Linked DNA regions of Homo sapiens. The protein of the gene in region 1 purifies or fractionates together with the protein of each later gene. This does not show direct contact. Each region holds a gene or a part of one and is shown in the gene's direction. Other genes may lie near its edges.

What was found. Proteins that work in one complex are often made in the same cells at the same time.
Region 2: the proteins of C3orf38 (region 1) and DNAJB4 purify together in Homo sapiens (affinity purification with mass spectrometry; 3 studies listed by BioGRID and IntAct, with this or other methods). This does not show direct contact.

Annotation. Positions count from the first base shown.
Region 1 is NC_000003.12:88,152,795-88,158,533, forward strand, and holds the end of C3orf38 (uncharacterized protein C3orf38), read left to right. Parts: intron 1-435; coding exon 436-677; intron 678-3,226; coding exon 3,227-3,841; 3' UTR 3,842-5,171; downstream 5,172-5,739.
Region 2 is NC_000001.11:78,014,939-78,018,464, forward strand, and holds the end of DNAJB4 (dnaJ homolog subfamily B member 4), read left to right. Parts: intron 1-1,075; coding exon 1,076-1,309; 3' UTR 1,310-3,026; downstream 3,027-3,526. UniProt on the Homo sapiens protein: Probable chaperone. Stimulates ATP hydrolysis and the folding of unfolded proteins mediated by HSPA1A/B (in vitro).

The DNA of each region.
Region 1 (5,739 bases):
ATATGGCCTCAACTTTCATTATCTGTAGAGTGAGGAGATATGACTAAAATTCCTTGACATCTAAAATATTGTTGTAATTGTCCCTATTTTTAGAGGTTGTGCATGAATTTAGGACTGTTGGCCTTATTAGAAAAAATATTTTTTCTCACTTAAATGTTTTCTTAAAATGTAATTCTTTAAGAGGAAATGCTAAACTTTCACTATCACTTATGGGAAGTGAACAGAAGAGATTTTAGGTAAGGGAAGTTTAAGGCATAAAGATGTTAAAAGAAAACTGACAACGGACTTCCTATTTTTTAAAAATGATGACTATCATGTAACAGCAATAATGCTGTGACGAGAGTTTATAAACATATTTGATAGAGTTTCTGCCCACCTGGCACAAATTTGTAAGTGCCTCATGATTTTTTATTAATCTTTGCAATTTCTTTCTAGATGCTGTTCATGCAATATTAGCATACAGTCAAAGTGCAGAAGAACTTCTGAGGCGTAGAAAAGTCCACCGAGAAGTTATATTTAAGTACTTGGCAACACAGGGGATTGTTATACCTCCAGCTACTGAAAAACACAATCTTATTCAGCATGCAAAAGATTACTGGCAAAAGCAACCACAACTGAAATTGAAGGAAACGCCAGAGCCAGTTACAAAGACAGAGGACATCCACCTATTTCAACAGGTAAAATAAATCTTATGGTTGTATTCTGAACCTTTGTTCTGTCTGAAACTTTGTTGATAATCCTAGATTGTGGGGAACATGGTTAATAATGTTTGTGGGGTTTTTTTATTTTTATTTTTTAAGAGATTCTTGCTCTGTTGCCCAGGCTGGAGTGCAGTGGTGTAATCATAGCTCACTGCAGCCTTGAACTTCTGGACTCAAGTGTTCTGCCCACCTCTGTCTCCTGAGTAGCTAGGGCTACAGGCATGCACCACCATGCCTGGCTAATTTTTAAAATTTTTTGGTAGGGATAGGGTCCCAACTATGTTGCCCAGGCTGGTCTTGAACTCCTGACCTCAAGTGGTCCTCCCGCCTCAGCTGGAATTACAGGCATGAGCCACCATGCCCAGCCTATTTTTTTTATATTTTATAATTTTAACTTTATTTCATATCCTATCAATCCTGAAGGAAGGAAGAGACCAGTAAAGCAACTAAGAGCAAAAATATTTCTGACATATAGTGATGCATATATAATCATCTATTGATATGTGAGAAAGTATTTTTCAATATCAGCATCATCAAATGAGGACTATTGGATTTTTAGAGAGTAAACTGCAAGGTTAATTTTAACTTTAGCTCCGTGTAATTTTTTTTCACTTTAGAAGAATTTTATTGCAAATTCTTTCTCACTTTTAAGACGTTTTTGGTATTGCAAAAATGTCATGAAAGGAACTTAAAATTTTACTTTAAAAAAAATTTTCTTTTAAGTTCCAGGGTACGTGTGCAGGTTTGTTAGATAGGTAAACATGTGCCATGGTGGTTTGCTGCGCCTATCAACCTATCACCTAGGTATGAAGCCCAGCATGCGTTAGCTATTTTTCTTGATGCCCCCGCCCCCACATTGGAACCTAAATATTTTTTATACTTTTTTTTTTTTAACTAGAAAAAGTCCTATTGTAGAAATATTCTCCAGCGGACATTGGCTGTTTCTGTTCTTTATATTATCTCCACTGTACATTTTAGATACTGCACAAATATTTAAGTGTTGCTTGAATTAACCTCTATGTAATTTGCAGATTTTTAAACTACATACCACATTTTTTGAATTAATGAGGTTTCACAGTGAGAAAGCTTTGCCTTCACACTAGGAAAGAATCTTTAAGAGCTTTCTTACTTTATGTACTGATAAGAGCATTGACTTTGAAATCATACAAATACGACTTCAAATTAGGGTCTGCAATATACTAGGTGTGTTAAATTAGGCAAATAACCAGTGCCACGCACAGTGCCCAGTGTATTAAATAGCAGGTGCTCAGTAAACCTAAGATCTCATACATCTCAGTAAAGTACTGTGTTGTGGAACACATGGATGAATGAGATCTAGTGTATCAGGTAGATTTTTACAGTAACTTTTTTTTTTTTTTTTTGAGACAAAGTCTGCCCTGTCACCCAGGCTGGAGTACAGTTGGCATGATCTCAGCTCACTGCAGCCTCCACCCTCTGGGTTCAAGCACTTCTCCTGCCTCAGCCTCCCAAGTAGCTGGAATTACAGGCATGCGCCACTACACTCAGCTAATTTTTGTGTTTTTAGTAGAGACGGGGTTTCACCATGTTGTCAAGACTGGTCTTGAACTCCTAACCTCAAGTGATCTGCCTGCCTCAGCCTCCCAAAGTGCCGGGATTACAGGCATGAACCACCACGCCCAGCTTACAGTAACATTTTCTGTGAAAAAAGAGAAATAATAGAATAAAATTAATCCCAGTTATAGAAAATAACCTGTTTCAATCACCGTAAGAGTATCTATTTAAAGACAATGAAAATGCTTGCTTATATTAACTTTATGTCATTTATATGCAAAATGCATCCATTTAAAGTGAACGTTTTGAAGGTTTTCACATATATACCTGTGATATACATATATACCTGTGAAAACACTGCCACAATCTGAGGAAACACTTACATAAATCATCATATAATTTATATATTTTTATATATGACTGTTCATACTGATTTTTTTTTTTTTTTCACACGGAGTCTCGCTCTGTTGCGCGGGCTGGAGTGCAGTGATGCTATCTTGGCTCACTGCAACCTCCACCTCCCAAGTTCAAGTGATTCTCCTGCCTCAGCCTCCTGAGTAGCTGGGAATACAGGTACACGCCACCATGCCCGGCTAATTTTTGTATTTTTAGTAGAGACGGGGTTTCACTATATTGGCCAGGCTGGTCTCAAACTCCTGACCTCACCATCCGCCTGCCTCCTCCTCCCAAAGTGCTGGGATTACAGGCGTGAGCCACCACGCCCGCCAAGTTCATACTGATTTTTAAATTGGCCTTACTAAACCTTACTCTCTTAGCTGAATTTTCAGCAATTTAAGCTGGAAATTTCTAAAATGATTTTTCTCCTCTTGAAAAAAGATTTTTACTATGCATAATGGGTTCAGCAAGTTCACATATGGTTCATTTCTCTCTGGTGTAATGGGTTCATTCAAACTTAATAGGCTAGATAGAAAAATAGATATGAAAGTTAAACCTTAGTGTTATTTTGTATTTATTTTATTTGTTTCAATCAGCAGGTGAAAGAAGATAAAAAAGCTGAAAAAGTTGATTTTCGTCGCCTAGGAGAAGAATTCTGTCATTGGTTCTTTGGACTTCTTAATTCTCAGAATCCTTTTCTAGGACCACCTCAAGATGAATGGGGACCACAGCACTTCTGGCATGATGTGAAGCTTAGGTTTTATTACAACACATCAGAACAAAATGTTATGGACTACCATGGAGCAGAAATCGTGAGCCTTCGTTTGCTGTCACTAGTAAAAGAAGAATTTCTTTTTCTCAGCCCCAACCTAGATTCACATGGACTGAAATGTGCATCTTCTCCTCATGGGCTGGTTATGGTTGGAGTTGCTGGGACTGTCCATCGAGGAAACACTTGTTTGGGCATTTTTGAACAAATTTTTGGACTCATCCGCTGCCCTTTTGTGGAGAATACTTGGAAAATCAAATTTATCAACCTGAAAATTATGGGAGAGAGTTCCCTTGCTCCTGGAACATTACCGAAACCATCTGTTAAATTTGAACAAAGTGATCTAGAGGCCTTTTATAATGTAATCACTGTATGTGGTACCAATGAAGTACGACATAATGTAAAGCAGGCTTCGGATAGTGGAACTGGGGACCAAGTTTGAGGTAGTGGAAATGAGACATTGCTGAACAAAAGAGAACTGGGTTTACCTGACCCTCTAAAGCGCTAAGTACTGTCAGCCTGAAAAAAATCTTCTATACAGAAACTCTTCCAAATACTATATCAGTAATGTCTGAATGATTTCAGATGTGAAAATTGACATATTTTAGTTGAAATACCTTTCTGGACTACAGACTTACATATCATGTGAATACTTACCTATTTCTACCCGAGTTGCAGCAAGTATTCTGAAAGCTTAATGCAAATAAATCCCACTTTAGATCTTACAGCTAACTGTGTGCCTTAGAAACCAGGTAATATTTTCCTTTTACTTAGTGAATATTCTGCTAATATCTGCACTTTTCATGTGGGAAAGGATTAATAATGGTCCAGGCTTCCCCTCTTTAAGTTTCATGTTTACTTTTGTCTAACTCTGGATAATTGTATTTTACAAATGCATCTCACTGTAGTATATTTTTAAAACTATTAAATATTTTAGAGATGTTTAACGTAAACTCAAAGTTCTCATTTTAGAAAATTTAAATAACATTCTTTTTGCAAAAAAGTCCAATAATTTAACAGTTGAAGAAAAACTTACTACCTCTTTAAAGATTTGAGAAACATTTTTCAAAGTTATCAGCTGTAGTCCAAGCTAAATATCTTTTGTAATCTGCAACATTTTCCTTACTGTTTTTGGGCAGTGATAAATGCTGTTCTCGAAATAGACTTTATTCTTACCTAGGCTTCAGACAACAGTTTTATAGAGCAGTTACTGTAATACAATATAAAGGAAATATGCTGTTGAAATTTTAAAGGTATGCCCAGTTCCTAACTTTTAAACGAATTACCGTTCTTCCTCTTGGCTGATCTTGGCAGAGATGACAAAAAAAACCCCAAAACAACCCATGCATGTATAATGTGTGTATACACATATACATAAGTATACATATACTCCCACATTATAACTTAGAATATTTAGTTTTTTACCTGTTACTAGGTTTGAGTTACATGGTTGAGTTGCCAAATTATTTACATGCTTTGTTTAAATTCTTCATCACCTAGCAACTGTTTGCTGATCATGGATTTACTTAGTTACTTTAATTTATAAAATTACCATTTGGAAAAGAACTCAATTGGGAAATGTGATGACGTATTGTACATGTTACTTTTTCCTTTGCTATAATCATCTAGGGAGACTGATAAGAATTTTGGAAATGGGAGCCTGGAAACTCATCTTTGTTTTTTTAATGCTATGCCTCTTACGAGGAATACGAATTGGTATGTCCTAAAATAAGAACTTAATAAAGGAGGGAAATCCCTTTTGTCTGCTATAAGAATAGTGTATCGTTCAGATTTAATTTATAGTTGTGTTGCTCTTAGAGTTTTAGGCATTTAACGAGAACAAAGAAAATTTTATAACTGCTAGTTACACTGTTATTGTAATATAATTAAGTATAAAGAAAATAGTGTGCAAAATAATTTCCTCTCATATTTTTATAAAGGTACACAATCAGGTCACAAGTCCATCTTTATCCATCCTATACCTCTGCTTGAGTTTTGAAAACTGGGTTACCTTTTATTTCTTAGTTTGAAGTTTGAAATATCATTATAAAGTGTAATAGGTAAACATCCTAAGTAAAGGATAAAATTAAAAACCATTCTTGTTACTAGAGATACTCAAAAAGGGCAGGGATTTCCTCTAGGTACCTTTAGTATTAAACTTTTGAGTTCGTGTAAAGCACAAATAAGGCTGCAATTTCTGCACATAGTTTTGAATCAACCTTAAAAATGTAAAATCTTTTTGATAGTCTTGAGATTCTTGAGGATTAATGCTATTTTATTTCATGTTTATTTCATGAATCCCTAGATATGGGCACACTACAGCCTAATATTGGAGTGAAT
Region 2 (3,526 bases), on another chromosome or scaffold:
CTCTATGGAACACTATTGTTTCTTACCCTGCTCTAATACCTACCTGCTACTGCCCAATGCTTAGTTCAAGCATCCTCTACTCCCGGAATCTAAGGGGTTAAGTTGGGTGCTCTTTCTCTTACAAAAGACCTCCATGCTTACCTCTGTTCTTACACTATACAGTATTATAATGGCTAGTTTGCTTCTATGTTTCTGTGAGTTCCTTGTGCATTCCTTGAGCTGGGGTCTGTGTTCATGGTCCCTATAAGGCTCACCATCTAGCCAGAATGTGTGGCATATAGTAAATGCTCAGTAAACATTTGTTATCTAAAACAAATATATTTCTTGTCCTAATACTTTCCAGAGAAATAGTTGCTCCTATCCAGTTCTTTCTAGTCCTGAATTTCTCCCTCTTCTCCCATTCCAATCCCTGCATCTTGAATATATTAATAGCAGCTTCAAAATAACCATGTCATTCCAGGGCAATGTGGAATATATCCTTTACTTCTCTTTTACCTTTTCTTTTCTTCTTCTTTTTTTTTTTTTTTTGTAACATATCTAATAATGCATGTCCTGAAGGAATTTTCCTTTTTTTCTTTTCTTTTCTTTTTCTTTTTCTTTCTTTCTTTCTTCTTTTTTTTTTTTTTTTTTGAGACAGTTTTGCTCTTGTTGCCCAGGCTGGAGTGCAATGGCACGATCTCGGCTCACTGCAACCTCCGCCTGCTGAGTTCAAGTGATTCTCCTGCCTCAGCTTCCCGAGTAGCTGGGATTACAGGCATGTGCCACCACGCTCGCCTAATTTTGTATTTTTAGTAGAGACAAGATTTCTCCATGTTGGTGAGGCTGGTCTTGAACTCCTGACCTCAGGTGATCTGCCCGCCTTGGCCTCCCAAAATGTTGAGATTACAGGTGTGAGCCACCGTGCCTGACCTCTGAAGGAATTTTCTAATGAGGAAAAAAAATTTATAACTATTGTTATTCTTTTGGAGGTTAAAGTTTTACCTTAGTGGTATTATCCTTTACCATCTGGTAAAATTTGTGCTTAGATTTTTGAGTTTTGAAGTGTTTTCATTTTATTTTATTTGGTCCATTTTAGGCATTGTGTGGCTGCTCAATTAATGTACCAACACTGGATGGAAGAAACATACCTATGTCAGTAAATGATATTGTGAAACCCGGAATGAGGAGAAGAATTATTGGATATGGGCTGCCATTTCCAAAAAATCCTGACCAACGTGGTGACCTTCTAATAGAATTTGAGGTGTCCTTCCCAGATACTATATCTTCTTCATCCAAAGAAGTACTTAGGAAACATCTTCCTGCCTCATAGAATGAAGAACTTTGTTACACATATTTTGATAAGGCACTGAAAATATAAAAGGACTGGTAGTTTACTGATGTAGATGTGAATTCTGTATAAAGATGTGTAAATTCTTTTGAGGGTTCATTAAATTGCATGAATAGAGACGGGTCAAATAAATAGGCAAAAGGGATTTTTACAGTTAGAGATAAAAGAGAAAACCATTCACTGTATTTTATTTCATTTCTCCTGATTCAGATATTTTTAGTAATTTGCTTATATGTAAAAGTTGTTTTTGTGGAGTCAGTGGATATATTTCTAATGAAGTGCTAGACTATCCAATTACTTAATTTCTTATACCTTTAGATAATCAGTATGAAAAGTTCCCATTTATAATGGAAATGAAAATTCTTAACTAAACTATACATGTAATATGTATTTCTAGAAGAGAATAAAAACCCAAGTCAGTTATTAGATTTAAATCACCTTCTGAAATGCTGCTATAGGGCTGGTATCTGTAAAAGAATATCCTGATGCATCTGTTTCACCATTTTGATTTTTAAAGTATGCTGTAGCATTTCTTAATAACATCGTTGTGATGTTCTTAAGGCAGATCTTTCTTCATAAAAAGGAAAGTAATGGCAATTTCTCTCCTGTGGAAATCCCAATTGCTTGAATTACTGATATTTTAGAATAGACTTTTTAAAATGCCATATGTAATTTTATGCAAGTTGACTATATATCTTGTACTTAATAAATTATAGGCTCATTTTGTTCTCTGCTAGTTTAAAGTAATTCGTTTAATAATAGATGTGTTTTTAGAGGAAATGCTGTTACTTGGAATTAATTTTCCAGTTATACAGTCTTCTATAACTTACTAATAATATTCTATATGTACTTTATGTAATTTCCCTAAAAAGAATGAACTACCACTACACTATGGTGTTAAACCAAAATATAGGGAAAATAAACACTAACTGCTGCTTATGGATAATGTTGCAACTACTTGTTATGCATATAAATATTTTACTTTTTCACATGTATAGATTGCATTTCTTAGGTGTTTTAATTTTTTAAATATATTTATGTTTTAAAAATTTAGTTTTGTTTTCTGTTTTATAACTATAGTGAGAATGATGTTTTGAAGCAAAATTTTTGGTTATAAAATAGTTTTCAGGATTATATATATATATACTGGATCCTATCGCCTTTTAGTAGAATATGAAATATTCTTTTAGAAATCCAATATAAATAGGTTATAATAGCCATATTCTTTATTACTTTATTGAGATATAATTTACATGCCATAAAGTTTACCCTTAAAATATATAATTCAGTGGTTTTTAGTGATATTTACAAAGTGGTACAATCATCATCACTTTCTAATTCCAGAATATTTTCATCACCCCAAAAAGAAATCCTAAATCCATTAGCAGTTACTTCCCATTCTTCCCTTCCTCCAGCCCCTGAAAACACTACCATCTACTTTTCATCTGTATGGATTTGTCTGTTCTGGACATTTCACATAAATAGACTCAAACAATATATGGCTTTTTTTTTTTTTGGTCTGGCCTCTTTCATTTAGCTTAATGTTTTCAAGGTTCATCTATGTTGTATCACGTATCAGTACTTTATTTTTTGTGTGGCACGTCATATGGATATACCACAATTTGTTTATCTTTTCATTAATTATGGGCATTTGGCTTATTTCTACTTTTTTGGCTATTATAAATAATGCTGCTGTGAACATTTGTGTGCAAGTTTTTGTGTTTCAATTCTCATGGGTATATACCTAAAAGTGGAATTTCTGGGAGTAACCATATATTTGAGTTGCAAATGGAAAATGCTTGAAAAAAATGCCACAGAATTCAGCTAATCGTATTTATTACTCTAATTCATAAATGATTCCTCTATAACTGTCTCTCTGAATGACAGTTAAAACTCCCTACAGAAGTGTGAACATTACAGAAATTTTCTCACAAGTCTAAAGATCTAGATCTGAAAAGCATCAGTCAACGTGGTGAATGATAGTGGTTTCTGTTTTAAACCCATCATTATTTATTGCAATTTTCTTGATTAAGCATTTTCTCCCAGGTAAAATAAATGATTTATAGATAGATATATAATAATCTTTGGATTAAAAAGTTTTTTTAAGCAGAGAATTATTATTCTAGTAGTAAATAAATTTACATAACTACACAAAACCAGTATACCAGTATCTCTCTTATCTTAAAGGATATTGACAAT